Regions from separate parts of the Homo sapiens genome. Here all the other regions are linked to region 1. Evidence: fine-mapped expression QTL. A gene starts in region 1. Each other region holds a variant in brackets. All regions are shown on one strand. Distances are from middle to middle. Region 1 holds the start of USP36 (ubiquitin specific peptidase 36). Region 2 overlaps USP36 (ubiquitin specific peptidase 36). Region 3 overlaps USP36 (ubiquitin specific peptidase 36). Region 4 overlaps DNAH17 (dynein axonemal heavy chain 17). Region 5 overlaps CYTH1 (cytohesin 1). Region 6 overlaps USP36 (ubiquitin specific peptidase 36). Region 7 has its middle 9.4 kb from the start of CYTH1.

Region 1 (4,075 bases):
TTTGGGCTAATTTCGTGAGAGACCTACGTTGCATTTCTTTCTTTTTTTTTTTTTTAGACCAAGTATTGCTCTGTTGTCCAGGCTGCTGGAGTGCAATGGCACGATCTCAGCTCATTGCAACCTCCACCTCCCAGGTACAAGCGATTCTCCTGTCTCAGCCTCCCTAGTAGCTCGGATTACAGGCGTGCGCCACCATACCCAGCTAATTTTTGTATTTTTAGTAGAGACAGGTTTTCACCATGTTGGCCAGGCTGGTCTGGAATTCCTGACCTCAAGCGATCTGCCTGCCTCGGCCTCCCAAAGTGCTAGGATTACAGGCGTGAGCCACTGTGCCCTGCCTTTTTTTCTTTTCTTTTCTTTTCTTTTGAGACGGAGTCTCGCTCTGTCGCCCAGGCTGGAGTGCAGTGGCGACATCTCAGCTCGCTGCAACCTCCGCCTCCTAGGTTCAAGGGATTCTCGTGCCTCAGCCTCCTGAGTAGCTGGGATTACAGGCGCCCACCACCACACCCAGCTAATTTTTGTATGTTTAGTAGAGACGGGGTTTCACCATGTTGGCCATGCTGGTCTCGAACTCCTGACCTCAGGTGATCCGCCCACCTTGGCCTCCAAGTGTTGGGATTACAAGGGTGAGCCACCGCGCCCAGCCCAAGGATTCTTACAGATAGGGCATAGTCTCAGCATCAGACTAATATGGTTATCTTGTTTGCTTTTTTCAAAAAACACCAGCGCCCAGGTAATAAATACAAGGTGAATTTTGTTCCAAGTACATCTAGCCTCTCTCCCCATCTCCAGTCCCTGCTTTAGGATCCGTGGGGAGGGCATGGAAATTCGTTTTGGGTTGTTTACCTGTGACTTCACCCTACTCATCATTCCTACTTACATCAAAAAAGACACAGCAGATACGACTGTGTTTGCAAAGTTCTGCCTTTTGGATAAAGTAGTTTATGCCCATCCTGTGCTTCTCTGAGTTTCTGAGGTCAGGCCAGGAACCAACACTCTCAACCTGCCCAAGGGAATGGGGAGGAAGCCAGCGAAGTTGCCTCAGATCAAGAGGATTTTTAAAAATACTGCAAAAGAAATACGTGCTCACAAATACTCAGCTAAAACCTTCGCAGAGCTGTCAGAGGACAAAGCTTTTGGAGGGAGTGGGTGGAGCTAGAGATTGCACAGCCGCCACCAGCCTACAAAGGTCAAATCTCACACTCTCAGATCCCTAATTCCGAAGAGCCATTTCCTCGGCAGCCCCAGGCTTTGGCCGATCGCTCCCAGATCCCTCCCTCCCCAAACTGCAGGTGCTCCGCGTGTGGGAGTCACGGATGGCCCCAGAGCCCGGGACGTTAAGGCCGAGCGCCCGCGCCTCCGCTTCTCCACAGCCACCTGACGGCCAGGGGCAGGTGGGGGAGCCCAGCCTTCTCCCTGCCCGGGAGACAGCGCGGGAGGGCTGTTGCAGGGGTGGGCAAAGTCCCTCGAGTCCCCGTTCTGGGGCGGGGGCGCGCGCCACTGTCACACTTCAGGCGTCCGCCACGCCGCCAGGTGTGCTCGGCCGACCCGGAAGTAGCGGCACCTCTAGTGCGCTGCGGAGACGTCACCCTGCCGCGGCACAGGGGCGGGAGCGCCTGTGGCTCTGCGCACTTGCGTCATCACGTAGGCTGGCGGGGTCCCGTGATGGGGAGGTGACGTAGGCGACACGGAAGCGGCGGTGGGCGGGGACAGGGAGTTAGCGGAATCTAGCCCCGCCTCTTAAAGCCTCCCAACCCTTTCGGAGTTAGCGCAGCGCGAACGCTGGGTGCGGCGCCTTTAAGCGTCGCGGTGACACGTGTGTGAGGCGCCGGAGGCCCGGATGGTGCGCGTGCTGGGCCGCGGGCCGAAGGAGTCGCCAGGGCTGCGTAGGCTTGTGGCGCGCCCGCGGAGAGGCCGGGGTAGGCTGGGGTCGGGTCGGGGCGGTGCGCAGGCCTGGGGACGAGACCGGGGCGGGGGGTTCCGCGAGGCCTGGGGCGCGGGAAGGGCTGGCGGGCGCAGCCGGGACGCTCAGGGAGAACGTGGGCGCGGGTCCGCGCAGGGCTTCGGCCGTCCCCGAGGAGGACCCGGGATGCTCCGCCCGCTCGCGAGCTCGCTTCTCCAGAGCCCGGGTATTCCCGAGGAGGGTCCGGGGCCGGGCTGTCCTCGCCGGTCTCCGCCGTCCCCCGGGCTCCGGGCCGGTGATGGGGGTCGCCGGGGCCCGCTGTCTGTGCAGGATTCAGGTCAACTTCGGAGAGGTTGAAGTCGGAATCAGGGCGAGGGCGTCGCGTGCGGCCGCAGAGCTCAGCGGGGCGGGTGCGGCCCCGGGGCGGGCACCTTCCTCGTGGTTGCGGAGGAGGCCATGGAGCCCGGGGCGGGGTGCGGTTCCGATGCTGCTGCTTCTGGCGGGTGGCGTGGGGGTCCTGGGCCTGGGGCTGGAGTGGCGGCCGCCAAACCCAGACACACGAGAGGGGAGACTCCGCGCGCCCCCGTTTACGTAACGCTCGCCACGGAGCCATGCTCGGGGAGAGGTGCTCGGGTCGCTGTGTCCGCGGCCGGGCTCGGGGCAGGCGCTGCGGAGTCGCCCGGGAGGCCCCTGGAGCGCGGCGCTGGGCCCCGGGAGGCCGCTGCTTCCGTGGGCTCCTCTCCCCAGCACGTGGTTGACCCTGCGAGCGTCCGTTGCAGTTCATCCTGGAAAAGTGACTTTAGAAGGAGGAGGGAGCGGGAATGAGCCTAAATGGTGCTGGCTGGGGTTCGCGCAGGTGGAAATGTGGATGAGGCCTGTGCTGTCCTTGGACAAGAGAGAGCATCCTTCCTGAGTTGGGTAGAGTGTGGATGGTGTGTGCGTCGGAGGGATTGCTAGTGATTACAGGAACACTTGTCTCGGGCTCCTACACGTCAGAGAGCGAGCGAGCGTTGTTTAGGTTATTGCTTAATGTTTTAGGTGGAATTGGTGAAGTAGAGATTGACCTGTCCCACTTGAAAAATTGTGTTCAAAATCTCTGCATCTACATTAAGGAGTGGGTTAAGTTCAAAGTTACTTATCTCGAGTGAAACTGGGTTACATCTCCCAAGGTTCGTTTATCCCCTCCCTAAGTGGTTCTCAAGCGTTGGTTGTGCATGACAGAGTTCTCACCTTCCAGGGTAGATGTGAGTCCTAACCGAAAGCAGTGATATTGTGGGGAGTTTTTAATACGACTGGATGTCTTCACTTTGTAGATGGCTTTTATTCTGAGATCATTTCCTTACACATTTTTCGGGAGTTGGTATGCTTTTATTTATGGATGAAGTCATAGGTCTGAGATTTGCTGTAGAATTACCTGGGGATGGGAAGTGACTCAGGATGGGTCAGATGTAGTTACTGAGGCTGAATAAGGGGGGCTCATGTGCTCCCTGTGCGGTTCTCCATCTGTGTGTTTGAATGTTTTCACTGTAAACTGTTTTTACGAACCTTAATTTTATGTAATCATAGTGATCGTAGATGGTAATGAAAGAGAAAATCCACACTTAGCAAAGCAAAATTTTGGCAACTCCTATTACTCCCTGAGGTTTGTTGTTGTTGTTATTGAAGTTTTACTGGTTCATTAAATCCAAAACTTGGGGATTTATTACCTCTTACTCTTTGGAAATAAGATTAGACTGGAGCTGACTGGCAGGTGTTGGGGAGGTTTTCCTTCTCTGGGCTTGTCTGGGGTCAAGGTTAAGGTGTTCATATCGTGTGCATTACAACAACTGGTGATGAGGTAGTACGGTCCACCCGCCTCATCCTGAGTGCACGCGTGGATGCTCCTTGGACGGCTTTTTCGTGGTAGAGGGTTCCCGGTGCGCGCCGCATCCCTGGGAAGTAGCTGAAGAGAAGGCACAGGAAGAGTCGCCTCCACTGATGGTCTCCCTGTCCCTCCCACAGGCTCTGACGCCCGCTCTGCGGCTTCGGTGTTTGAACAGGCCACAGTCCAGGAGCGCTTACATTCAGGAGCTCCGCGTAGCACCTGCCCAACCAAACTCAGCCCTCCGTTAAGATCCTGGTTCCATGCCGCAGTAGGACAGCAGGCCCAAGTCTGCACATCCCAGGTGAGTC
Region 2 (4,065 bases), 32 kb after region 1:
CTGGAACTCCTGACCTCAAGTGATTCGCTCAGCTTGACCTCCCAGAGTCCTGGGATACAGGCATGAGCCACCGTGCCCGGCCTGGATGACTGTTTTTGATGGATCGTCTTCCTCTCCCTTTAGAATGAAGAGTTGAACCCCACACACAGGCAGTCAGGGCCTTTCACAGTCTGCAGGGGTTTTGGTCATTTACGTACATCTGTATTTCTCTTCACATTAAAGAAAATAGAAGCTGAAATTAGAAGCATTAGAATTGAAGTGGCAGTAAAATACATGATATAATTGCAAAGTTGGTGGTCACTGTAGCCCAGACTAGGAAGTTAGGAAGCAGCCTGGGCCTGGGACTGTGACTCATGTCTGTAATTCCAACACTTTGGGAAGCCGATGTGGGAAGATCAGTGGATCCCAGGAGTTCGAGACCAACCTGGGCAAAACCCTGTCTCTACTAAAAATGCAAAAGCTAGCCAGGTTTAATGGCACGTGCCTGTATTCCCAGCTACTCAGGAGGCTGAGGTGGGAGGATCACTTGAGCCAGGGAGATTAAGGCTGGAGTGAGTCATGATCATACCACTCCACACCAGCCTGGGCAACAGAGCAAGACCCTGTCTCAAAACAAATTTAAAAAGTAGCCTGGGCAACATAGATCCCATCAGCACAGAGAATATTCAGTAAGCTGTTGGGGGAGGATCACTTGAACCCGGGAGGTTGAGGCTGTATGCAGTGAGCCATGATCACGCTGGTGAATTCCAGGCAAGGTGACAGAGTGAGACCTTGTCTACAAAAAAAAGAAGAGGGGGGCCGGGCACTTTGGGAGGCTGAGGTGGGTGGACCATTTGAGGTCAGGAGTTTGAGACCAGCTTGCCAATATGGTGAGACCCTGTCTCTACTAAAAATACAAAAGTTAGCTGGGCATGGTGGCGTGCGCCTGTAATCCCAGCTATTCGAGAGGCCGAGGTAGGAGAATCGCTTGAACCCGGGAGGTGGAGGTTGCAGTGAGCTGAGATTGTGCCACTGCACTCCAGCCTGGGTGACAGAGCGGGACTCCATCTCAAAAAAAGGAAGCAGCCTGGGCAACATAGAAAGACCCCCATCTCCAAAACCCCATCTCCAAAAAAAGTGCAAAAATTAGCCAGGTGTGGTGGTGCACGTCTGTTGTCCCAGCTGTTTGGAGGTTGAGGCAGGAGGATCACTTAAACACAAGGCTGCATTGAGCTATCATTGTGCCACTGCGCTCCAGCCTGGACAACAGAATGAGACCCTGTCTCAAAAAACCCCAGAAAAACAAAGGAAGCCCCACTTGCCACAGGAACTCCATGGGCAGAGTGATGCCCGAGGGTGGAGATTGGCTCAAGGAGAGTCCCTGTGTCAGGCACACCTGCAGGGGCGCTTCACTGACCATGAGCATTTTCATTACAAACGTGATTTTCCAAATACACTGCAAGCAGACGAGCCGTTTTACTCTAAATGACATGGTGCAAGTTCTAGTGTGTATGGAAATGTTCAGCCAGTGAAACGGCTTTGCGGTGCAGTGGAAAGATGAATTCCTTTTAGAAAACAGTATTAACAAAGAATAGAATGTAGGGAACAAAACAAAACT[T/C]GGAAGAAAATAGAGGTAAATTCTTAACCTCTGGGAAGGGAAGAAGACTTTGTATGCTTAAAGTTGAAGGATAAAATGTAGAAGAATTATGAATTGACTAAGATTTACATTTTTGTACATAATTTACTACAAACAAATGAAGCAATAAAACCTTGTAAAATATTGTCAACAAAAGGTTAACATTTGTAAACAAAAGATCTCATTCAAATGAAGATCACTTTAGTGCATGTGCAGAGAATATGAATGTTAAAGTGGTAATAGCCCAAACGAGTGTCAAATTAGCAAATGTTTTGAAAAATAGATGTGGCTGGAGTATAGTAAAAGCAGTTTGGCATTTTGCATCAGATTTCATGAAAATGAAATCTGTAATTTCATTTCCAGAAAATTAGCCTTGTAATTCCATTTCCAGAAAATTAGCATGGAGTACTAAGTACAGGAAAAGCTCAACAAATATTTTTTAAGCACCGACTCTATACCAGACCCTTGAGTTGCTGGTGAGGGCTGCAGTGGGAACGAGAGAGATAACGGGTACAGCCTCTTGGTCAAGCAGGGGAAGGCTGACATTCAGCATCTAAATACAGAATAATAAGTTATTTCTATGCAGTTGTAATAAGTGCTCTGAAGGGTAAAGGATACACACACATATACTGTACAGTATTTTTAATTTCAACAGTTGGAGACAATATAGCTTATATAAATTAACCATACAGTTAATGTGTATCAGTAGTACATAGTATATATAGTAAAATGTCAAAGACAGGCCGACAGGCAGGGTGCAGTTGCTCAGGCCTGTAATCCCAGCACTTTGAGAGGCCAGGGTGGGAGGATTGCTTGAGCTCAGGAATTCAAGGCTAGCCGGGGCAACATAGCAAGATCCCCATCTCTACAAAATAGTAATAATTATTCGGGTGTGGTGGTCTACTCCTATAGTCCTAGCCAGTTGGGCAGCTGAAGTGGGAGGATCTCTTGAGCCCAGAAGGTTGAGGCTGCAGTGAGTTATGATGACATCATCATGCCACTGCACTCCAGCCTGGGCAACAGAGCAAGGCTCTGTCTTAAAGATATTTATTGAGAGTTATCGCCCATAAAAATGCTTGAGATAATAGCTTTAAGATAAAACTGGGATGCAACTCTTCAGGCCAGAACCATTTGGAAGAAAAGATTGAAAAAAGAAAGCACTAGAATGTTAATGCATGGTTATGTTTAGGTGATGGAACTTTGCTAAATTTCTTCCTTTATACTTTTTTCTCTTCCCAAATCTTGATGAAAATGTACTGGTTTTATAGTAAAGGTGGCCATAAAGATATGTATTCAGGCCAGGTGCTATGGCTCACACCTGTAATCCCAACACTTCTGGAGGCTGAGGCAGGTGGACTGCTCGAGGCCAGAAGTTTGAGACCAGCCTGGCCAACATGGTGAAACCCCATCTCTGTCAAAAATACAGAAATTAGCCAGGTGTGGTGGTACACGGCTGTGGTCCCTGTTCTTGGGATGTCACAGAACACCAGAATTGTTCAGAGAAGCCACAGTGTCTTTACCAAGAGTCCAGATAAATAATTTATCTTGAGCATGCTAATCAGAGGCCATGCCTGCTACTAAGATTCACTGTGGCCTTAAGAAGATGTGGCCCAGCTGAGACTTCTCGCTTCCTCAGTTGTGTTTTCTGCTTTGGTCTCCTTAGCGACAAGACTCTGGGACGATGAAGAAGCCGCACACCACTGAAGAGATTGGTGTGCCCATATCCAGGAATGGCTCCACCCTGGGCCTGAAGTCCCAGAACGGCTGCATTCCTCCAAAGCTGCCCTCGGGGTCCCCTTCCCCCAAACTCTCCCAGACACCCACACACATGCCAACCATCCTAGACGACCCTGGAAAGAAGGTGAAGAAGCCAGCTCCTCCACAGCACTTTTCCCCCAGAACTGCTCAGGGGCTGCCTGGGACCAGCAACTCGAATAGCAGCAGATCTGGGAGCCAAAGGCAGGGCTCCTGGGACAGCAGGGATGTTGTCCTCTCTACCTCACCTAAGCTCCTGGCTACAGCCACTGCCAACGGGCATGGGCTGAAGGGGAACGACGAGAGCGCTGGCCTCGACAGGAGGGGCTCCAGCAGCTCCAGCCCAGAGCACTCGGCCAGCAGCGACTCCACCAAGGCCCCCCAGACCCCCAGGAGTGGAGCGGCCCATCTCTGCGATTCTCAGGAAACGAACTGTTCCACCGCTGGCCACTCCAAAACGCCGCCAAGTGGAGCAGATTCTAAGACGGTGAAGCTGAAGTCCCCTGTCCTGAGCAACACCACCACTGAGCCTGCAAGCACCATGTCTCCTCCACCAGCCAAAAAACTGGCCCTTTCTGCCAAGAAGGTGGGTGTGTGGGGGTCTCGCCGCTGCTGTGTATCAGGAGAGCTCCAAGAGTTGCTTGGTTGTGGTTTGAAGGGAGTGAGAACATTGTCCGGGGGCTTTGGCCTCCCTC
Region 3 (4,075 bases), 21 kb after region 1:
CGGTGGCACATGCCTGCAATCCCAGCTACTTGGGAGGCTGAGTCAGGAGAATTGCTTGAACCCAAGAGGTGGAGGTTGCAGTGAGCCAAGATCCCACCACTGCACTCCAGCCTGAGTGACAGAGCAAGACTCTATCTCAAAAAAAAAAAAAAAAAAAAAAAAATATATATATATATATATATATATATATATATATTCTCATTAGGAAGTGCCGTGCACGCGTGCAGGGAGGAGGCAGCTCTTCCCTCTGCTCTCCCTCAGCAGGAGAGTACCGCACGTGGTGGTCAGCAGTCCAGGCAGGGAGGGCCCTGTGAGTGCAAAGATATTGACATCCATCTTTGTGAACTTCAGTGGTGAAAGAGAGCTCTCTGTTCGGACACCAGGATGCTTCAGGGGCTAGTGGGAATCTCATCTTTGGCCAAAGCCCTGCTGAGAGTCTGCCTCCCTGCTGGGTCTCGGTCTTGGGAGCTGGGAGTGCCTCTGCCAGGCCCCACCTGCTCCACTGCCTCTGTTCTGTTGCAGTGAAGTGCTCCGTGTGCAAGAGCGTCTCGGACACCTACGACCCCTACTTGGACGTCGCGCTGGAGATCCGGGTACAGATCTGTCCTGCCCTTCACTTTTGCAGTAGGAGAGCGAGGCCAGAGGGTGAAACAGAACCCGCAGAACAGTAAAGGCATCAGATCAAAATAGATAGGGAGAAAACTCCTTTGCTCCCTGCCGCCTTGCAGTACAGACCATTGTCTTTACCTGTTTTTTTCTAGAGTTTTTCCTAAGCGTATCCTTTTATTTAAAGAAAAAAATGGTAAAATTGGGTTTTGTGTCCTGAAGCATGAACAGGAACAACGCTGTCCCCAGGGCTTGAGGAGAGTCTGTTGTGTGCTCTGGGCGGCGTGCAGCCTTTGGAGCTTGGTGGCTCTGTGGGCCTCACCTGGGAGAGCAGCCTTGGCTTTGTCGCACATCCTGCTGCAGCTACAGGGTGCGGGAGGGTGGTCTGCCTTTGCTGGGCCAACCCAAGCTCCAGAGCAGGTCCAGCTACAAGATCATCCTGATAAAAGTGACTGATTCATGGCAGACCTGCAGCTGTCATTTCTTTGCTTTGCTTTTTTTTTATAGGGGCTTGAGGGACAGGGTCTTGCTCTGTGGCCCAGGCAGGAGTGCAGTGGCGCAATCATAGCTCACTGTAGTGTTGACCTCTAGGCTTAAGTGATCCTCCCACACAGCTGGTACTACAGGCATGCACCACCACGCCTGGCTAATTTTTTAAATTTCTTTGCAGAGACAGGGGTCTTGCTATGTTGCCCAGGCTTGTCTCAAACTCCTGGCCTCAATGATCCTCCTGCCCCGGCCTCCCAAGGTGCTGGGATTATAGGCGTGAGCCGCTGTTCCTGGCTGCTTTCATTTCTTGTCTCTGGAGAAGGAGTCCCAATCTGGCAGCTAGTGGGCAAATTTTTATGCGAGTCTAAGTTCTGTGATTTGCTGCCTCAGCCTAAAAAAGACCTTAAATTTGGCATTTCTTGAATCAGCCTTTTTCCTCTGCTGTGTATTTTACTCCCTGTTTTTGTCCTCCTCAGCAAGCTGCGAATATTGTGCGTGCTCTGGAACTTTTTGTGAAAGCAGATGTCCTGAGTGGAGAGAATGCCTACATGTGTGCTAAGTAAGTTTCACGTTGCTTGTGGCAGAAGACTGATACCAGACGGGAAATAAGTCCCCTCACCTGACAGTGTTGTGCCCACCCACTCTTCCTTAGCGGTGACCGCTGCTCGCATTTCTTGAGGAACCTATGTGTGTCCTAAAAACTCAAACTTCTAAATAACACGAATGAAGCAATAGCTATGATTTTTATAGCTACAGTTTACACCATACCTGTTCTAAAGATGCCGCATATATTGTGCAGTAGGGGCTGTGGTTTCCCATTGCTAGGGATGGTGAAACTGAGGCACAGAGAAGTGAAGTGACCAGCCATGGGGCCACACCAAGAGGACGTGGCAGAGCACGAGCTCACATCAGTTCACACTGGCTGGCACCGGGCGGCCGCCCCAGGGACTGTGCCCAACCAGCTGCTCTCTTGCCTCTTAAGGAGTGTTTTCTTTGGCTTTCATTTTTTACTTAACTGGTTTTGGACATTTTTCCGTTTCTGCAGATAGAACTCTTACTTTGTCATTTGTTGCATTTTTAGTAGTGACAGGGTTTCACCTTGTTGGCCAGGCTGGTCTCGAACTCCTGAACTCAGGTGATCTTCCTGCCTTGCCTCCCAAAGTGCTGGGATCACACTACTACAGCCGGCTGAATATCTTTATATCTAGGTCCTTGTAAAGCTGTAGGCACTAAAGAATATATTCTTAATTCTGCTTTACTCTTCTTTAGGTCTGTTTCCTGCAGCTCTCCAAGCTGCGCGCCTCTGCTTCTGTTTTCTCTCCCTGTGTTTGCGCATCTTCTAGCTTTGCTTACGTTGACTTCCTGCCTGCCCGTTT[TA/A]TCACTCAGCCACATCTGCTTTAATTTGCTCTTTCCTGTGTTGGCCCAAAGCAACTTTTTCCTGTATTTTATTTAGTTTCCTGGTGGGTACAGTACTTTTATTTTTTTGCTTTAGAATCTTCCCACTTTCTGTAGTCTTATTTCCCTGTGGTAGCTTTCCTTTACTTGAGGCATGCTTAATGTGATTTTGAGAGGAGCAGAAGGTCGAAATCTCATTGATGAAGATTCCACTATTACAGAGCAGTTGTTGCTGTTATTAACTTAGCGTTAAGACAACATTTTTCAGAGCACGAATCAATCATTCATTAATCTTTCTCATCACCTTCTTCATAGATGCAAGAAGAAGGTTCCAGCCAGCAAGCGCTTCACCATCCACAGAACATCCAACGTCTTAACCCTTTCCCTCAAGCGCTTTGCCAACTTCAGCGGGGGGAAGATCACCAAGGTGAGCGCTCGTGACACCATCCCAGGCAGCTCCGTGGGCCACAGTCGGCATCAGAATAACACGAAGAAAGTGATAGCCACGAGTTTGATAGCTGCTGTTTACACAGTACCTGTCCCTGTTCTAAAGGTTCTACACATATTGTGAAGTAGGGACTGTAGTTTCGCCCTTGTCCAGGACGGGAAGACAGTCACAGAGAGGGGAAGCAACCTGGGACGCCTTTTAAAAATAGACGTTTCTGGGTTTATCCCAGTGCCAGTGAATTTGAATCTCTGGAGGACAGGGCCCAGGAATCTGCATTTTTGCAAAATCCCTGAATGCTTGTTATACACAGTCAAGTTCCAGGGCCACTGTCTTAATGGATTTACCGCAGCTTCTGGTTGTGCTTGGGCTGGTCCTGGCAGGGACTTTCAGGGTTCTCCAGATGAGTGTGATGAGCACTGGGCGGTGGGACTTGCATTGTCCATGTCCTTTTGATGTCTAGAACAGGTGCCGTTGCATGCTCTGGCTTTTTATGAAATATGGAGTTTAGAAAAACTACTTTTGACACGATGGTATTTTATTGTTTAAATTTCATTTTGTTTTAAGACAGGGTCTCACTCTGTCACCTGGGCTGGAGTGCAGTGGCATAATCAGCGCTCACTACAGTCTTGACCTCCCAAGCTCAAGCGATCCCCCTGCCTTAGCCTCCTGAGTAGCTGGGACTGTGGGCACATGCCACCATGCCTGGTTAATTTTTTAAAAAGTTTTTTGTAGAGACAGCATCTTGCTGTGTTGCCCAGGGTGGTCTCAAACTCCTGGGCTCAAGTGACCTGCATGCCTTGACCTCTCACAGTGCTGGGATTACAGGTGTGAGCCACCATACCTGGCCTATAGTGGCATTTTCATAGAAGATGTGTTTCTTTTTTCTTTTTTCTCTTTTTTTTTTTTTTGAGACAGAGTCTTGCTCTGATGCCCAGGCTGGATTGCAGTGGCGCTGTCTCCACCTTCTGGGTTCAAGTGATTCTCCTGCATCAGCCTCCAGAGTAGTTGGGATTAAGGCGCCCACCACCACACCTGGCTAATTTTTGTATTTTTAGTAGAGATGGGGTTTTGCCATGGTGGCCAGGCTGGTCTCGAACTCCTGAGCTCAGGTGATCCGCCTGCCTCAGCCTCCTAAAG
Region 4 (4,000 bases), 310 kb after region 1:
GCAGACAATAAAAATGTGATTAATACACACACCGACCACCTTGGGATTCTCCAGTCCTGTATATAAGCCAACGAGTTCTCTCTTTGCTTAACCAGTTTGGGTTGGGTTTTCTGTCACTGGCAACTAAAAAGATCCGTATAGCACTGGCCTCTCGTGCTCTCTGCTCTAGCCACCGACAGTAGACTTCCTTTAGTTCCCCTAACACGCTGCCTCCTCCCACCACGGGGCCTTTGCACGTGCTTTGCTGTTGCCAGGAAAGCCGCTTCTCTTGCTCCTTGTCTACCCATCCATCAGCTCTCAGACCAATGGCCATTTCCTCGGGGCCATTCCCTGACCTGCTCCCCATTTCACCTGAAGCAAGGGGGAGGGTGGAGATGCTTTTTTCTGTGATTCTTTGATGAATGTCAGACCCCATTCCTGGGCTGTACACTCCCTGCCTGTGCCCCAGTATCTATCCCAGCATGTGGTACGCAGTGAGAGCGAGCTATCGAATGAATGAATCAATGTGTGAGTCATCTCGGGGTTCCCCAGACAAACGTCACACTTGGCATACCTTCCCATGGCAGAATATTGCAAATCGGCAAAGGTTCCTATTTCCCGTGGTGAGAGCTTGGGCCAGGCACAGTGGCACGTGCCTGTGGTCCCAGCTACTTGGGAGGCTGAGGCAGGAGGATCGCTTGAGCCCAGGAGTTCTGGGCTGTAGTGTGCTATCCACTAAGTTTGGCATCAGTATGGTGACCTCCCAGGAGTGGGGGACCACCAGGTTGCCTAAAGAGGGGTGATCGGCCCAGGCTGGAAAAAGAGCAGGTCATCATGAGAGATTGGAAGCCCTTTCGCCAACAGAGAACCACTTCTCAAGGCCGAGAGGACAACACCTAAATTATGAACCAGGCAACATACCTCCCCTTTTTGCTTCTCCCCTGCCCCTTTCAGATGGACCTGGAAGATAACACAGACCTCATAGAGATGAGGGAGGAGGTGTCCAGCCTGGTCATCAATGCCATGAAGGAGGCCGAGGAGTACCAGGATTCCTTTGAGAGGTACTCCTACCTCTGGACGGACAACCTGCAGGAGTTTATGAAGAATTTCCTGATATATGGGTGTGCAGTCACTGCGGAGGACTTGGACACCTGGACAGATGACACCATCCCCAAGACACCGCCCACCCTGGCTCAGTTCCAGGAGCAGGTGCGTGCAGACCTCACCCACCAGCCTCCTTGTCTCCAGAGTCTTCCAGGAGAGGATCACCAGGCTTGCTTTAAAACTTGGGTGAATTGTTTTAAGATGCAGGTTTCCAGGTAGGGCAAGGCAAACATCAGGAGGTGACCACCATTAGAAAGGCAGTTTGTTACTTACAGTTCCCAAGAAGGGGGCATAGCACACCACACAGGCCTGCACGGGGTAGCATCAGGGTCAGTCAGGAGGCAGAGGGAGCTGGGGAAAATGTGGGGAAAATAAAGAGCCTTTATTGTGGCTTCCAGGGAAGGAATGGGCAGAGGTCACAGGCTTAGGGTTGGCAAGTTTGAATAATTTCAGCAGGCTCTAGGCTATAGGGGCTGTCTGGTACCTGACCTCAGGGAGATGAGGGCTGAGGGCTAGTGGGTAGCAGCCCAGAAGGTAAAACCCTGTGAGAGCCCCATCAAGGGGATGGTCGGAGGTGTGGGCTCCGGGTTGGCTCATTTGCATATGAAACCACACCCCCAGGTGAATTGTTTGTTGTCTCTCAAAATTGACTAGGCCTGGGAGGGGTCGTCCATGGGCAAGGCCCCAGATGTCAGAGCATGAAGAACACAGAAAATCACACCTGTCAGTGTAATAACCTCAAATGTAAATGGATTCAATTCCCCACTTAAAAGATATAGATTGTCTGAATGGATGAAGGTAACCCCAATATATGCTGCTTAGAAGAAACTCACTTCACCTGTAAAGACAGATTGAATGCAAAAGAATAGAAAAAGAGATTCCACACAAACAGAAACCAAGAACAAGTAGGAATAACTATAGTTACATCAGATAAGACAGACTTTATGTCGGCCGGGCGTGGTGGCTCACGCCTGTGATACCAGCACTTTGGGAGGCCGAGGC[G/A]GTTGGATCGTGAGGTCAGGAGATCGAGACCATCCTGGCTAACACGGTGAAACCCCATCTGTACTGAAAATACAAAAAATTAGCTGGGCGTGGTGGCAGGCGCCTGTAGTTCCAGCTACTCGGGAGGCTGAGGCAAGAGAATGGTGTGAACCCAGGAGGCGGAGCTTGCAGTGAGTCAAGATCACGCCACTGCACTCCAGCCTGGTGACAGAGCAAGACTCCATCTCAAAAAAAAAAAAAAAAAAAAGACAGACTTTATGTCACAAACAGTAAAACGAGACCAAGAAGGTCACTATGTAATGACAAAAGGATCAACTCAGCGAGAGGATTTAACAATTCTACATATCTATGCGCCCAGCACCAGAGCACCCAGATATATAAAGCAAACAGTGGTAGATCTAAAGGGAGAGACCCCAGTACAGTAACAGTTAGGGTTTTCAACACCCTGCTCTCAGCGTCAGACAGATCATCTAGACAGAAAATCAGCAAAGAAACATTGGAGTTAAACTGCACTTTAGATCACAGGGACCAACAGACAGCTACAGAACACTTTACCCAACAGCTGCAGAAAGAATGCATAAAATAAGAAAACATAGTTAACGCACAAACCTCTAGCTCTGTTCCCAATGCACAGTGAGAAAGAGGGCCCCGTGGGCAAGGGTGACCCATGCCCAGGGGTACATTCTGTAGCACAGGGTTGGGGCAGCAGGAGGAGTGACAGAGGCCTCAGGTAGAAGGATGAGCTAGGGATGCCCTTTAGGAGCCTGTGACCTGGTTCACCTCTTGAAGCTTCTGTCCTACCCAGCTTCAGAAGTCCTGCTGCCATGACCCCTTCTGCCCCTTTCTGATGGACTGGCACCTTCTGGGGCTAGACTCTGGGGCTGGAAGGAACAATAACTTGGAATGAGGGCCCCCATGTGTCCCGTACTGCCCTTTGCTGACCCTGGCCCCAGAGTGGCCGGCAGGTGAGCAGCGCAGGTGCAGTGCAGGAAGGCCCTGGACTGAGGCCCTGTGCTGACGCCCCCCCTAGGCTTGCAGGCTATGACAGGCCGCCGGTGGCCGTGTTTTCCAGATCGACTCCTACGAGAAGCTGTATGAGGAGGTGTCCAAGTGCGAGAACACCAAGGTGTTCCACGGCTGGCTGCAGTGCGACTGCCGCCCCTTCAAGCAGGCCCTGCTCAGCACAATCCGGCGCTGGGGCTTCATGTTCAAGCGGCACCTGAGCAACCACGTCACCAACAGGTGGGTCCCCAGCCATGTACTCGGGGAGCCCAAGGAATGTGCAGAGCACCAGGGAGTGGCCTTCCACTTGAGTGGGTGGCATTTGTCAGGTGCCTCCTCTGGGGTAGCAGGGGGTGGAGGCTGGGCTTCAAGGCCAACTACCCCACCAAGCGTGAGCAGAAAGGTGTCACCGGGCTGCGAGCAAACATTATCCCTTCTCCAAACCCGGTGTACCGAGCACCTGCTCTGTCCGGGTGCCAGATGCGGAGGAAACCAGAAGTCTGTCAGGGAAGGCTGGCGCTGAACAAACAGACTGGCAGCTGTGGGATTATAGGCGGCCATCAGGGCCATGATGGGCACAGTGCCAGGAGAGAGCATTGCCTGGCTGAATTCCATCCGGGAGGCTAGTGAAGGCCTCTGGGATGTGGCCGTAGCTTGGGACTTGAGGATGGGCTTGAGCTAAGTTGCTGAGGCTTGGGGTGATGTCTGGGCAGGGGCTGAGTGAGCTGGAGGGATCCAAGGTGGGCAGGGGCGCTCCCTCCCCACCTGGGGCCTTCAGTGATGGCCAGTTGACCTCACCGCGGTCGTCCCCCTCTCATGGGGCTCCGTACCATCAAGGGTGGGCCTAAGGGGGGCTGGGGCCACACAAATGGTCCCCTTGTCCCTTAGCCTGGCTGACCTGGAAGCCTTCATG
Region 5 (4,075 bases), 85 kb after region 1:
CCTTCCTGACATTGAATTACTATTTTTTTAAACTTTTTTTTGAATTTTTTTTTTTGAGGCAGAGTCTTGCTCTGTCACCCATGCTGGAGTGCAGTGGTGCGATCTTGGCTCACTGCAACCTCCACCTCCCTGGTTCAAGCAATTCCCCTGCCTCAGCCTCCCAAGTAGCCATGCCTGGCTAATTTTTTTTGTATTTTTAGTAGAGAAGGGGTTTCACCATGTTGGCCGGACTGGTCTTAAACTCCTGACCTCAGGCAGTCTGCCCGCCTCAGCCTCCCAAAGTGCTGAGATTCAGGCATGAGCTACTGCACCCGGCTGAATATTTTTTTAATCTTTTGGGTTGCTGATATAATTAAAATTTTTTCCTGCCTCTCTCAGCATTGGCAGAATGAACTTTGTTCTAAGAACCTCGGCTAGTGTTTACATGTATTAGAATGGGAAAATTATAGCAGCTTCTTTCCCAGGTCGTTTTTTATTCATCTATTCAACAGATACTTATTGAACACCTATAATGAGCTGGACACTCTATGGGCCTTGCAATTTAGACATGAATAGAGTTCTCAGGTACCTTACATTCTAATTAGAAGGAGAACTTTGACCTCTAACCAAGACCTGTTTAATTCATAGGAGGGTTTCTTTTCTTTTTTTTAAACTGCACTCACGGTCATCCCCCCAAAGGATGAGGGTTTCTTAAGTTATGTTGAAAATTCAAACCTTGAGTCCGGGCATGGTGGCTCACGCCTGTAATCCCAGCACTTTGGGAGGCCAAGGCAGGTGGATCACGAGGTCAGGAGATCAAAACCATCCTGGCTAACACAGTGAAACCTTGTCTCTACTAAAAGTATGAAAAAATTAGCTGGGTATGGTGGCGGGCGTCTGTAGTCCCATCTACTCAGGAGGCTGAGGCAGGAGAATGGCGTGAACCCAGGAAGCCTGGGCGACAGAGCGAGACTCCATCTCAAAAAAAAAAAAAAAAAAGAAAAAAAAGAAAAAAATTCAAACCTTGAAATTCCGCCTTGTGAATAATCTTAGTCTAATTTTTGCCATGTTTATTGGAATATAGGCCAGTGGTTGAACTTTGTGTTCCTAACCTCTCAGCATCCTTGTGTCTCCTGGTGATTATGAAGGCTTTTTTTTTTTTAAATGAGATCTTGCTCTGTCACCGAGGCTGGAGTGCAGTGGCATGATCATAGCTCACTGCAGCCTTGACTTCCTCGGCTCAAGTGATCCTCTCACCCCAGTGGTATTTTCTAATAGACATCTGTGTCCCCAAAATGTGTTAAAGACTTTTGAAGATGAGTCCACTCAAATAATGATTTAGTTCTGAATAGACAGATTTTTAAATTCTTTTTTGTTTTTTAGATGGGGTCTCACTGTGTCACTCAGTTCTCTGAAGGACTTCAAATAGCCTCATTAGCAAACTAGGGGTACTAACTGACATTTTCAGCACCTTTAATTGGTGATGATGAGCACATTAATTTCCATTTGTCTATTTGCTGCAGACTTTTCAGGTTCCTTCTCCTTGTTTTAAAAAAATTATTGAGGTATAATTTACATGGAATAAATGGTATCCATTTAAAGTGTACAGTTTGGCTGGGCGCGGTGGCTCATGCCTGTAATCCCAGCACTTCGAGAGGCCGAGGCGAGTGGATCACTTGAGATCAGGTGTTCAAGACCAGCCTGGCCAACATGGTGAAACCCTGTCTCTACTAAAAATACAAAAATTAGCTGGGTGTGGTGGTGGGCGCCTGTAATCCCAGCTACTAGAGTGGCCGTGGCACAAGAATCGCTTGAACCCAGGGTGTGACGGTTGCAGTGAGCTGAGATCACGCTGCTGCACTCCAGCCTAGGTGACACAGCAAGACTCTGTCTCAAAAAAAAAAAAAATAAAAATAAATAAATAAATAAATAGTGTACAATTTGATGGGATATATTCAGCAGTTTTGTACACCAGTGAAACCACTATCACAATAAAGCACAATATTTTCTTGACCTGAAAAAGATGCTTCATGGCCCTTTTTGTTTTGTTTTTCTTTTTTTGTTTTGTTTTTTTTTT[G/TG]AGGCAGTGTCTTGCTCTTTCTCCCAGGCTGGAGTGTGGTGGCATGAACACAGCTCACTGCAACCTCAACCTCTTGGGCTCAAGCAGTCCTTCCACCTCAGCCTCCCAAGTAGCTGGGACTACAGGCTTGCACCACCATGCCCAGCTAATTGTTTATTTATGTTGCCCAGACTGGTCTTGAGCTTCTGGGCTTAAGCAGTCCCCCTGCCTCAGCCTCCCAAAGTGCTGCCACCGAGCCTGGCCGCCGCTTCATGTCCTTTTGCTGTCCATTCCTCCCTCTACCCCGGCCCCAGGCAACCACTGATCTGGTTTTTGTGACTACAGATGAGTTTGTATTTCCTAGAATTTTATGTAAGTGAAATCATACAATGTTACAATGTATATTCTGTGTCTGGCTTTCTTTCCTTTTTTTTTTTTTTAAATAAACCCACTGCCAACATCATACATGTCTGGCTTTTACTCAGAATGATGTGTTTGAGGCTGGGCGTGGTGGCTCACGCCTGTAATCCCAGCACTTGGGAGGCCGAGGCGAGCGGATCACTTGAGATCAGGAGTTCGAGACCAGCCTGGCCAACATGGCTGTCTCTGCTAAAAATACAGAAAGCTACTCTGGAGGTGGAGGCAGGAGAATTGCTTGAACCCGGGAGGCGGAGGCTGCAGTGAGCTGAGATTGCGCTATTGCACTCCAGCCTGGGTGACAGAGCTAGACTCTGTCTCAAAACAAATAAATAAATAAATAATATTATGTTTGAGATTCATTGTTGGGGGTATCAGTTGTTCCTTTTCATTGCTGAGTAATGTTCCACTGTATGGCTGCACCACGTTTTTGGTCTCTTCACCTGTTGATGAACATATGAGTTGTTTCCAGATTTGGGCTATTGTGTATAAAACTGCTGGGAACATTCATGTATGAGTCATTATGTGGATATGTTTTCACTTCTCTTGTGTTATACCTACACATGGAATGGCTGGATTGTGTGACAGACCATTTTCCCCTTAAAAATGTTTTATTATATATAAAATATAATAGAGGTTAGTTAGGAATGGAATGTACAAATGATATGTAACTAGTTTCAAAATAAGGCTTAGAAGAGCTTTTATTTAACATAAGTATAATATGCAAAGCAGTTAAAGATTTTTATAAGTATGTTATTTTGCATAAATTTAAAAATGGATTTACCTTAAAAAAGTGACATAAAACTTCAGTCACAAACTAAATGCAAAAATTTATTTTATATTCTTGTACTAAAAATCACAATTTTGGGCTGGGCATGATGGCTCACACCTGTAATTGTAGCATTTTTTGAGGTTGAGGTAGGAGGATTGCTTGAGCCCAGGAATTTGAGACCAGCCTGGGCAACATAGTGACACTCTGTCTCTACAAATAAAAAAGAAAAAAATTAGTTTGGCACGTTGGTGCACACCTGTGGTCCCAGCTACTTGGGAGGCTAAGGTGGGAGGATTGCTTAAACCAGGGAGGTTGAGGCTGCAGTGAGCCAAGATTGCACCACTGCACTCCAGCCTGGGCAACACAGTGAGACCCTGTCTCAGAAAAAAAAAAGAAAACAAAAAACCCCACAATTTTCTATTTCCTTAAAATTGAGGGAAAGTCACGTAAAAACTAGAAGTATAAATTCTTATGGGTGGGCAAATCTGCGTAAGAGGGTTTGTTTTTGAAGCATGGCAGATCAGAGAAGACAGTTGCTCTTGGAAAGTTCTGTCAGCATCACACGCATGCCTTTCCTTTCCGAGTTTATCTAGATGCGCTGCTTCTCAGTAGCCGGTCGCTTTGTCCACGACGGTCCTGACACACAATGTGACATAGCTTCACACAACGGCCACTTTGACCCTCCCTCCCTACTCCACGTGTATCTAGAGGAGAGGATCCTAGCATGCCATCAGCCAGGTGTTTGCAGTACGCTGGATTGATGATGTCATTACCACTCAGTGGTGAATCATTTTAAAAAAGGGGTGAGGTGGGGGACTTCTTATATTTTTTAAGGGATTATTTTAAAAATC
Region 6 (4,062 bases), 41 kb after region 1:
TGTGCACCGGGCAAGGGGGTGGGGGACCGCGTGGGTGTGCACCGGGTGAGGGGGTATTGGGGAGTGCACAGGCTGAGAGCAGCGTCTACTGCATCTGAGCTTGGGAGGGTCTGGGAGAAGATGTGGAGGGCCCTGGGACCCTACCAACCTTCACCCCCCACCCCCGAGTCTGCTCCCTTGGGTGATGGGGTTGAAGCTTCCTCATGTGTCACAGCATTTGACTGAAACAGCCCCATGAGAGAGGTTACAGTGCACATGAACTTTAAAACATTCTGTGAATGCCAGTGGGTCTTCCGATTCAAAGCTGTTCTGTCTACAGCTTCTCACGGAATGACTCCCTGAACTCCCAGCCTGAGTTTTTTTCTGTGATGGTTGAATTTAGAAGAGTTGGGTTCAAAAGTGAATCCTCCTCTCCCTCTATGTAGCTGGGCCATTCAGAACATAGCACGGTTTGCTTGCTGTTGGGGACCTGTGTGCTGTGGCTGTCCTTGGGCACCACCCCTCAATCGGAGGGTGTTTTGTTTTCTTTAGGGCTGGCTGGGGCATGCCTTGGCAGGCACCCGCCACAGAACACATTTGTTAAGTGAAGGGGAGAGAAAGTCCTGGCTGCTTGGTATAGGGGGCCGAGCTTGAGTGAGGCCTCCTCTGCAGTCTGGAAGGTCTGATTATGGCAGTGCATCTGGGGGTCAGCAGGACCTTAGAGACTGATTTGTATTTATCCAACTCTTAAGAAAGGAATTTATCGTTAAAAATGAAATGGTATGAAATAAATAGCAAAACGTGGGTGCTAGCTAGTGCCGACTGAGTTTGCTGGCCAGCATGCTCTCAGAAGTACTGCCCTGGCCGGGGGTGGTGGCTCACGCCTGTAATCCCAACACTTTGGGAGGCCGAGGCGGGCGGATCACAAGGTTAGGAGATCGAGACCATCCTGGCTGACACGGTGAAACCCCGTCTCTACTAAAAATACAAAAAGTTAGCCAGGCATGGTGGCGGGCGCCTCTAGTCCCAGCTACTCGGGAGGCTGAGGCAGGAGAATGGTGTGAACCCAGGAGGCGGAGCTTGCAGTGAGCCGAGATTGCGCCACTGCACTCCAGCCTGGGTGACAGAGTGAGACTCCGTCTCAAAAAAAAAAAAAAAAAAAAAAAAATACTGCCCTAACATGGCACCAGAGCTGTGCTCCGTGCCACCCTCGGAGCGAAGTGGAGTTGGCTTGTTAGTGCAAGGGACATCACTTGAGCACTTGCGGTGCGCCAGGGTCCATGCCAGGTGCTGGTTGTGTCTACTGAAGTGCGCCCTGGGCCCTCGGGGCTCCCTGGCAGAGCCAGAACCACACAGTAAGGGCTCATGCTCAGCAAGGAGGCGCTGGGGGCCGCATGGGCTCTTGCAGTCCTGTGCACCTGAGGAGAGTGGCTAAATGGGCAGGGCACCAGACCCAAGGGCAGGAGGCGCAGCACGTTGGGAGCAGGCAGGCTGCTCTGCATGGCCGGGTCCCTGGGCTGTGTGGATGAGATGGGAACCATGGAAGCCACTGTGTGGGGGCAGGGGACACTTAGCCTGGAGCTCACTGAGGAATTGGAGGCAGGGAGAAATGAGGTCAGATTTGTGTGAAGGGAGGTGAGTATATTCCAGGGGCTATGTGGCTAGCTGGGCAGAGGACGAGTTCAGAAAGGGTTTCTAGAACCCGATGAGGGTGGTGAGTGCTGTCCTGGTCCCGAGGTGCTGGGTGGACCTGTGC[G/A]GTGTTGCTGATGGGGACCAGGTTCCCCCTGGACAGGGCTTAGGAGGTCGGGCCCCTGATGGCAGCAGCCAAGCTTGGCCGTTCCCTCCACCCCTGTGGCCATCCAGGTGTCAGGCTGGTCCTGGGGCATGGGCCTCTCCCGTAGGTGAGGTGGATTCCATTTAGATCTAGTTCTCTTCTCTCCTTCTGTCAGACTGAGGACTTAACACTACTGGTTAAAGGGGTTTTGGAGGGTTTTTTTTTTTTTGGTTTTTAGCTTTTTGTTATTTTCCATGTTTTCTTTCTCATGAATTGACTTGGACAACAGCCTTCTCTATTGTGTCAGGTCATTAGTAAATTAAGCATGTAAGCATTAGTAAATAAGCATTTAGGCTGGGCGCCATGGCTCATGCCTGTAATCCCAGCACCTTGGGAGGCCAGTGGGAGTCCCAAGGAGTTTGAGACCAACCTAGGAAACATAGTGAGACCCTGTCTTTAAAAAAAAAAAAAAAAAAAAAAAAAAAAGGCAAGCATCCACTTACTGTAAGTTGTTTTATAATTTAAGGTGTGCGATTGCTTCCCCAGTGGGTTATTTTAAACGTCTGTAAATGTTTCTTGGCTGCTCCGATTGCAGGGCTGAGCCAGGCCCCTCCTGTGTCTTGGAATGGAGAGCGGGAGTCTGATGTGGTCCAGGAACTGCTCAAATACTCATCTGATAAAGCTTACGGGAGAAAAGGTACTGATTTGGAGACAGGACTTCTGTTTGCCTTTCATTGGTTGGTTTTGTAGGAGGGAAGGGTGTGGAATGGATCCTGGTGCACTGTGAGTGTGGCGGGCGGGCATCGCTCGGCTTTGAGAATGGGAAGAGGAATCTCAACACTGGCTGGAGTCCTCTTTAAACCCTCAGCCGTGGCACGAAGGTGGCTTCTGTCCGTGGCAGGATCCAGAACAGCTGCTTCTGAGGGTTGGGGCAGGGTGAGGAGCCCCACACATGCTGTGTCTTGGGTAGGGAAGGGGCAGAGTGACGAAGCTCTTCCAACCTGGGTAATGTCACTTCTTGCTCAGAGCATGTTTTTATTCAGACTTCGAGACCAAACATGACATCTTTGTTCCTCAGACGAGGGCATGGGTTTAGAAAGAACTGAACTCTTTGGCTGTGGTTTAGGGTTTAGCTAAGAGGGCATCGCTGGGGGTTCCATGCTGACCGACCACACATGGGCGTCGAGCCGTCCTCCTCTTGTCCTTCTCTTCACCACAAGGTGGCACTCAAAATTGTTGACTAATTATGAGTAGACTAGTTGGTAAATGACACTCTTGAAGTGAAGCCACAGGGGACCTGGGAACCTGCACTCGTGCTGACCCCCGTGTCTGCCTGGTAGTTCTGACCTGGGATGGCAAGATGTCGGCGGTCAGTCAGGATGCTATTGAAGACAGCAGACAGGCCCGGACTGAGACCGTGGTTGATGACTGGGACGAAGAGTTTGACCGAGGGAAGGTATGATGTGTGATGCTGACCACAGGCTTGAGGGAGCAGGGCGGCGTGGCTCAGCTCAGAGCCGGGGCAGTTGGAGGTGGCGGCAGTGGCATGAAGCGGCCGAGCATGAGAAGAGCCAGGCTGCCCAGGCCTGTCCGGGCGTGTGGCCATGGACAGGGCATGCATCCTCGCAGCTTCCGCCCCTTTGTCAATAGGGGGACTGCAGGTCGCCGTGCACAGGGGTCATTGTGAAGAGTGGGTCTCCAGAGAGCTCATGAGAGCCCGGCCTGTGTGCAGGACCTGCATGCAGCATGGAGCCCCGTGGGCCAGGAAAGAGCCGTTTTTGGGAACTGTGATGCCTGTGATTCTTGGTCTAGGAAAAGAAAATTAAAAAATTTAAGAGAGAGAAGAGGAGAAACTTCAACGCCTTCCAGAAACTTCAGACTCGACGGAACTTCTGGTCTGTGACTCACCCAGCAAAGGCTGCCAGCCTCAGCTATCGCCGCTGACTGTGCCCCTGTGGAAGGAGGTCGGTTCCGAGGGGGTGGGTGTAAGGGTGAGGTGGGGGTGTGTGTGCCGTGTATGTGTGTAGGGGTGTGGTGGGGTGTGGCGTGTGTGTATGATGTATGTGGGCTGTGTATCTGGCACATGTGTGTTGGGTGGTGTGTGTGGTGTGGGCGCGTCTGTGGTGTGTGTCCTAGTCACTTGGAGAAGGGTGTGTGTGGGATGCGTGTGTATAAGGGGGTGTGTGTGGGATGCGTGTGTATAAGGGGGTGTGTGTAGTGTGTGTTGGGTGTGGGGTGTGTACACCTGGCATCTGTGGCATGTGTTCTGGTCACTTGGAGAAGGGCATGTGTGGGGTGTGTGTGGGATG
Region 7 (4,075 bases), 49 kb after region 1:
ATGAGGATGTGGGTACGCCAAGGACGTGGTGGTAAAGGAGGACTGTGTGTGGACAGGTCACGTGACATGCAGACGGGCAGCTTTCTGTGTCTTGTCAGCTGAGCTGACTCCCTGGAGTCACACTCTTGCCCGGAGGTGGCCCTGCTGCTGCTTCGTGCAGATCCCGCCTTGGCTTGGCCCCCTGCTCCTTCCATATCTGGACTGGGGATGACCCTTGGAGAAGATCATCTGGGTGCCATGGATTCGGCTTTCAGGGCTGTCTGGCTGCCCTTCTTCGTTGGGCTCTGCCTGCCTTTTGGGATTTCTGCCCTTGGTCTTCAGGCAACTCCTTCCTCTCTCTCCCATTCTTTTCAGTGATCCCTGCACACTATTTTGCTCTCTCATTGCATATGTGCCCACTACTCTTGGTAAGTGACTTCCAAGGCTACCTCAAGAATTCCCATCCCACCCCAAAATTAAACAACATGGGGAAACCAAAGCTAAAACCAGCTCCTCTCCCTCTGTTCTCTTCTCCTTCTTACCTCAGGGTTCTCAATGCTCATAGGGCAGCAGGAGCACCTGGGGAGAGGCATTCGATACTGACGGAAGTAGAATCAGAATCTATGGGTGAGGCTTAGGCATCAGCATTTAAAGCCTTCCTGGGGGGGTGAGGGGGGCGGGCGCGGTGGCTCACACCTGTAATCCCAGCACTTTGGGAGGCTGAGGCGGGCGGATCACTTGAGGTCAGAAGTTCGAGACCAGCCTGACCAACATGGTGAAACCCTGTCTCTACTAAAAATACAAAAATTAGCTGGGCTTGGCCTGTGCCTGTAATCCCAACTACTTGGGAGGCTGAGGCAGGAGAACTGCTTGAACCTGGGAGGTGGAGGTTGCAGTGAGCCAAGATCATGCCACTGCACTCCAGCCTGGGCGACAGAGTGAGACTCTGTCTCAAAAACAACGACAACAAAAAAAACCTTCCCGGGGGGATCATAGTGAGCAGCAGAGTTGAGAGTTGCCATCCTGGTCCCTGGTCTCAAACTCAAGTGAGCACCAGAATTGCCAGGGGCTCCTTAAAACACCAGTTGCCGGGCTCCTTCCCCCGCATTCTGATTCAGCAGGTCTGGGATGAGGCCTGAGAATGTGCATGTCCAATAGTCCCCGGGGCTGCTGCTGGGCAGACCCACTGTTCTGATCTGATGCCTCCCAGAGGGGCTGGGTGGTTGGTGTGGGAGAGTGGGAAGGAACTGTAGTATAGGGGCTGTTCCCCATCCTCTGTGGGGACCTCTACTGGAGATGCTGGACGAGGTGCCCCCTCTGTGTATGCTGGCACCCCACCTGTGCCCTTGAGGCCAACTTCTTCCACCCTGGGGACCTTGCTCCATTAATTACCCTGTCTGCTCCCGTGTCTCACTCTTCCCTTAGGAACATGTTCAGGCATCTCCCATCCTAAAAAGCCTGTGTGTCCTTGTGTCCCCTCTCAGCTGCCCTCTCCTTTGGTTGACATTCATTTTGCTCTGTGTTGACTCTCTGTGGTTCTTAGTCTAGCTTCTGCCATCATCACTTCTCAGTGACCTAATTCCCACTCTTGCCACCGACTTCTTCCCAGGATTTGACACTGTTGACCTCCGCACCCTGGAGAGCTCCTCTAAGATGTGAGCCTGTTGCATTTGCTGCATACTCTAGATCAAGCCCAGAATCAACTGATCCAGTCAATACATCCCACTGAACAGCCGACCGATCCACCCTCTGTCAGGATCTCTACTGTAGACACTGAAAGAGGTGCCCCCTCAGTATAGGATCCTGGCCTCAAATAATCTTCTCGCCTTGGCCTCCCAAAGCATTGGGATTACAGGTGTGAGCCACTGTGCCTGGCCTCCAGGACA[A/G]TCTTTTAAGGCAAGAAACCAGAATCTAATCATTCCCCAACATAAGGTTTCTCACTCCTGTTCAGAGAAAATAGTCTCCTCTATTTTGTGATCCAGATCCCCCCTGCCTCTTCAGCCTTCCACAGCCCCCTAGAGGCCTCTGGGCAGCTGTCCAGCCCGTTGTTCTGGGATCTCAGAAAGCACTCCAGGCATTGAGGAAATTGCCCTGTGAGAGGGGCCTGAGATTAAAAATGTGCTTGTTCTTAGCAGAATCTGTACCAAACTGTTGCTTCAAGTTGCTTTCTCAAGGGGAAACTGCTGTATATTTTTGCTGCTTTAAAGGGATTAAAGTAGGGTCAGGCTGGAGTCAGGTTTGAATCATGACTTCCTATAAAAAGAAGGCCAGGGCCGGGCACGGTGGCTCATGCCTGTAATCCCAGCACTTTGGGAGGCCTAGGCGGGGCGGATCACCTGAGGTCAGGACACAACATGGAGAAACCCCGTCTCTACTAAAAATACAAAATCAGCCGGGCATGGTGGTGCATGCCTGTAATCCCAGCTACTTGGGAGGGTGAGGCAGGAGAATCGCTTGAACCCGGGAGGTGGAGGTTGCGGTGAGCCGAGATCGCACCATTGCATTCCAGCCTGGGCAACAACAGCGAAACTCCAGCTAAAAAAAAAAAAAAAAAAAAAAAGAAGGCCAGATTGGGAATCAAGACCTGTGTTCTAAGGGGTCTGCCATGAGTTAGCATCATGAATTTGCTTTTCTCCTCTAAAATGCAAAGGTTAGATTCAAATTATCATGATTGTCAGCTGTCACTCTCACGATACATGTCTTGCATGCGTGTTTTCATTGGTTTTCTCCCTTACTGCTTCATTTAGGAGGGTGTTGATTAGAGGAAGCAACAGGACATGGCTGCCAAATATCCATTAGACATTGAGTGAGAAACAGGTCACAAGATTGCCACTCCCTTAAGCAGGATCTAGGTATTTAGGTAGCTTCTTACCATCATGAGACCAGATTTCAACACACAGTCTAAGTACATGGCAAATACTTGCTGCGAAATGTGTGTAGGAAATTCAAGTTCTTTTACATAAACCAGTGATTTTTTTAAGGCCATTTTAAAATGAATGTGTTGGCCGGGCGCAGTGGCTCATGCTTGTAATTCCAGCACTTCAGGAGGCTGAGATGAGAGGATTGCTTGAGCCCAAGATGTCGAGACCAGCCAAAAAAGGCCAGGCATGGTGGCTTGTACCTGTAGTCCCAGCTCTTTGGGAGGCCACGGCAGACAGATCACAAGGTCAGGAGTTCAAAACCAGCCTGGCTAACATAGTGAAACCCTGTCTCTACTAAAAATAAAAAAAAATTAGCCGGGCCTCGTGGCACACGCCTGTAGTCCCAGCTACTCGGGAGGCTGAGGCAGGAGAATCACTTGAACCCAGGAGGTGGAGGTTGCAGTGAGCTGAGACCGCGCCATTGTGCTCCAGCCTGGGTGACAGAGTGAGACTCTGTCTTTAAAAAAAAAGAAAAAGAAAAAGAAACCATATCTCCACTAAAAATACAAAAATTAGCCAGGCGTGGTGGTGGGTGCCTGTAATCCCAGCTATTCAGGGAGGCTGAGGCAGAGGAGTCACTTGAACCTGGAAAGCCGAGGTTGCAGTGAGCTGAGATCGCGCTATTGCACTCCAGCCTGGATGACAGAGCGAGACTTCGTCTCAAAAAAAAAAAAAAGGTATTATTCTGCCATTTTTCTGTCTTATGTGGCTACAGTTCTCTTGGCAAGGCCTAGCACTTACCAGCCACCCGGTAAATATTTGTTGAATGAGTGAACTGGAGCAGCTGCTGAAGGCAGCATACTTTGTGACTGCATTCGGACCCTGCTCAGAAAACAGCCAGCCCACCGTCCATCAAAGTCAGTGGCTCCGCAGTCCACACTGCACTAATTCCCCTTCACATTGCCTTCCCTGAGCCCTACCCGCACCCCCTTTGTTTTTCTGCGTAAGTGAAAACATTTTGGTGAAGTCTAGCAGGAACTAGAGCACTAGCTCCTCTATTTGAAGTGAACGCCCAAACCGTGGCACGTGGCCAGCTGTCTTTTGGGTGGCACAGGGAACAGTTGGTGACAGCTGGATACAATCAAGTTCCATTACAAACAGATTTTAAGTGTCATTTACACACAGAAGAAATTGCAAGCTTTAGCAAAATAAAATCTGGGGGTTTTCAAAGCAAG

Evidence for each region.
Region 2: its variant is fine-mapped to the expression of USP36 in whole blood (INTERVAL, PIP above 0.99).
Region 3: its variant is fine-mapped to the expression of USP36 in whole blood (TOPMed, PIP above 0.99).
Region 4: its variant is fine-mapped to the expression of USP36 in coronary artery (GTEx, PIP 0.94).
Region 5: its variant is fine-mapped to the expression of USP36 in monocytes (Quach 2016, PIP 0.95).
Region 6: its variant is fine-mapped to the expression of USP36 in whole blood (INTERVAL, PIP above 0.99).
Region 7: its variant is fine-mapped to the expression of USP36 in adrenal gland (GTEx, PIP above 0.99). The same link has a PIP of 0.9 or more in minor salivary gland.

The regions. Positions count from the first base shown.
Region 1 is chr17:78,838,580-78,842,654 of GRCh38, reverse strand. USP36 (ubiquitin specific peptidase 36) reads left to right here and starts at 1,841. Exons shown (of 21, transcript NM_001385174.1): 1 at 1,841-1,919; 2 at 3,905-4,068. LOC124904067 (a long non-coding RNA gene) reads right to left here and starts at 1,541. Exons shown (of 2, transcript XR_007065923.1): 1 at 1-1,541. RefSeq lists silencers at 1,354-1,453, 1,914-2,433 and enhancers at 1,574-1,763, 3,358-3,872, 3,873-4,075.
Region 2 is chr17:78,806,850-78,810,914 of GRCh38, reverse strand. It overlaps USP36 (ubiquitin specific peptidase 36), which reads left to right. Exons shown (of 21, transcript NM_001385174.1): 14 at 3,279-3,956. Among named protein-coding and RNA genes, the nearest start is that of CYTH1, 27 kb to the right of the region's middle. The variant T/C (reference allele first, on the strand shown) is at 1,598.
Region 3 is chr17:78,817,509-78,821,583 of GRCh38, reverse strand. It overlaps USP36 (ubiquitin specific peptidase 36), which reads left to right. Exons shown (of 21, transcript NM_001385174.1): 8 at 523-593; 9 at 1,572-1,654; 10 at 2,806-2,917. Among named protein-coding and RNA genes, the nearest start is that of USP36, 21 kb to the left of the region's middle. The variant TA/A (reference allele first, on the strand shown) is at 2,472.
Region 4 is chr17:78,529,670-78,533,669 of GRCh38, reverse strand. DNAH17 (dynein axonemal heavy chain 17) reads left to right here. Exons shown (of 81, transcript NM_173628.4): 20 at 934-1,188; 21 at 3,158-3,327; 22 at 3,976-4,000. It also overlaps the pseudogene RN7SL454P. Among named protein-coding and RNA genes, the nearest start is that of DNAH17, 46 kb to the left of the region's middle. RefSeq lists an enhancer at 103-1,302. The variant G/A (reference allele first, on the strand shown) is at 2,086.
Region 5 is chr17:78,753,892-78,757,966 of GRCh38, reverse strand. All of the region lies in intron 1 of CYTH1 (cytohesin 1), which reads left to right. Among named protein-coding and RNA genes, the nearest start is that of CYTH1, 26 kb to the left of the region's middle. The variant G/TG (reference allele first, on the strand shown) is at 2,057.
Region 6 is chr17:78,798,055-78,802,116 of GRCh38, reverse strand. It overlaps USP36 (ubiquitin specific peptidase 36), which reads left to right. Exons shown (of 21, transcript NM_001385174.1): 18 at 2,349-2,450; 19 at 3,094-3,209; 20 at 3,566-3,717. The coding sequence ends at 3,697. Among named protein-coding and RNA genes, the nearest start is that of CYTH1, 18 kb to the right of the region's middle. The variant G/A (reference allele first, on the strand shown) is at 1,736.
Region 7 is chr17:78,789,594-78,793,668 of GRCh38, reverse strand. It overlaps a transcript of USP36 not described here. Among named protein-coding and RNA genes, the nearest start is that of CYTH1, 9.4 kb to the right of the region's middle. RefSeq lists an enhancer at 2,225-2,394. The variant A/G (reference allele first, on the strand shown) is at 1,866.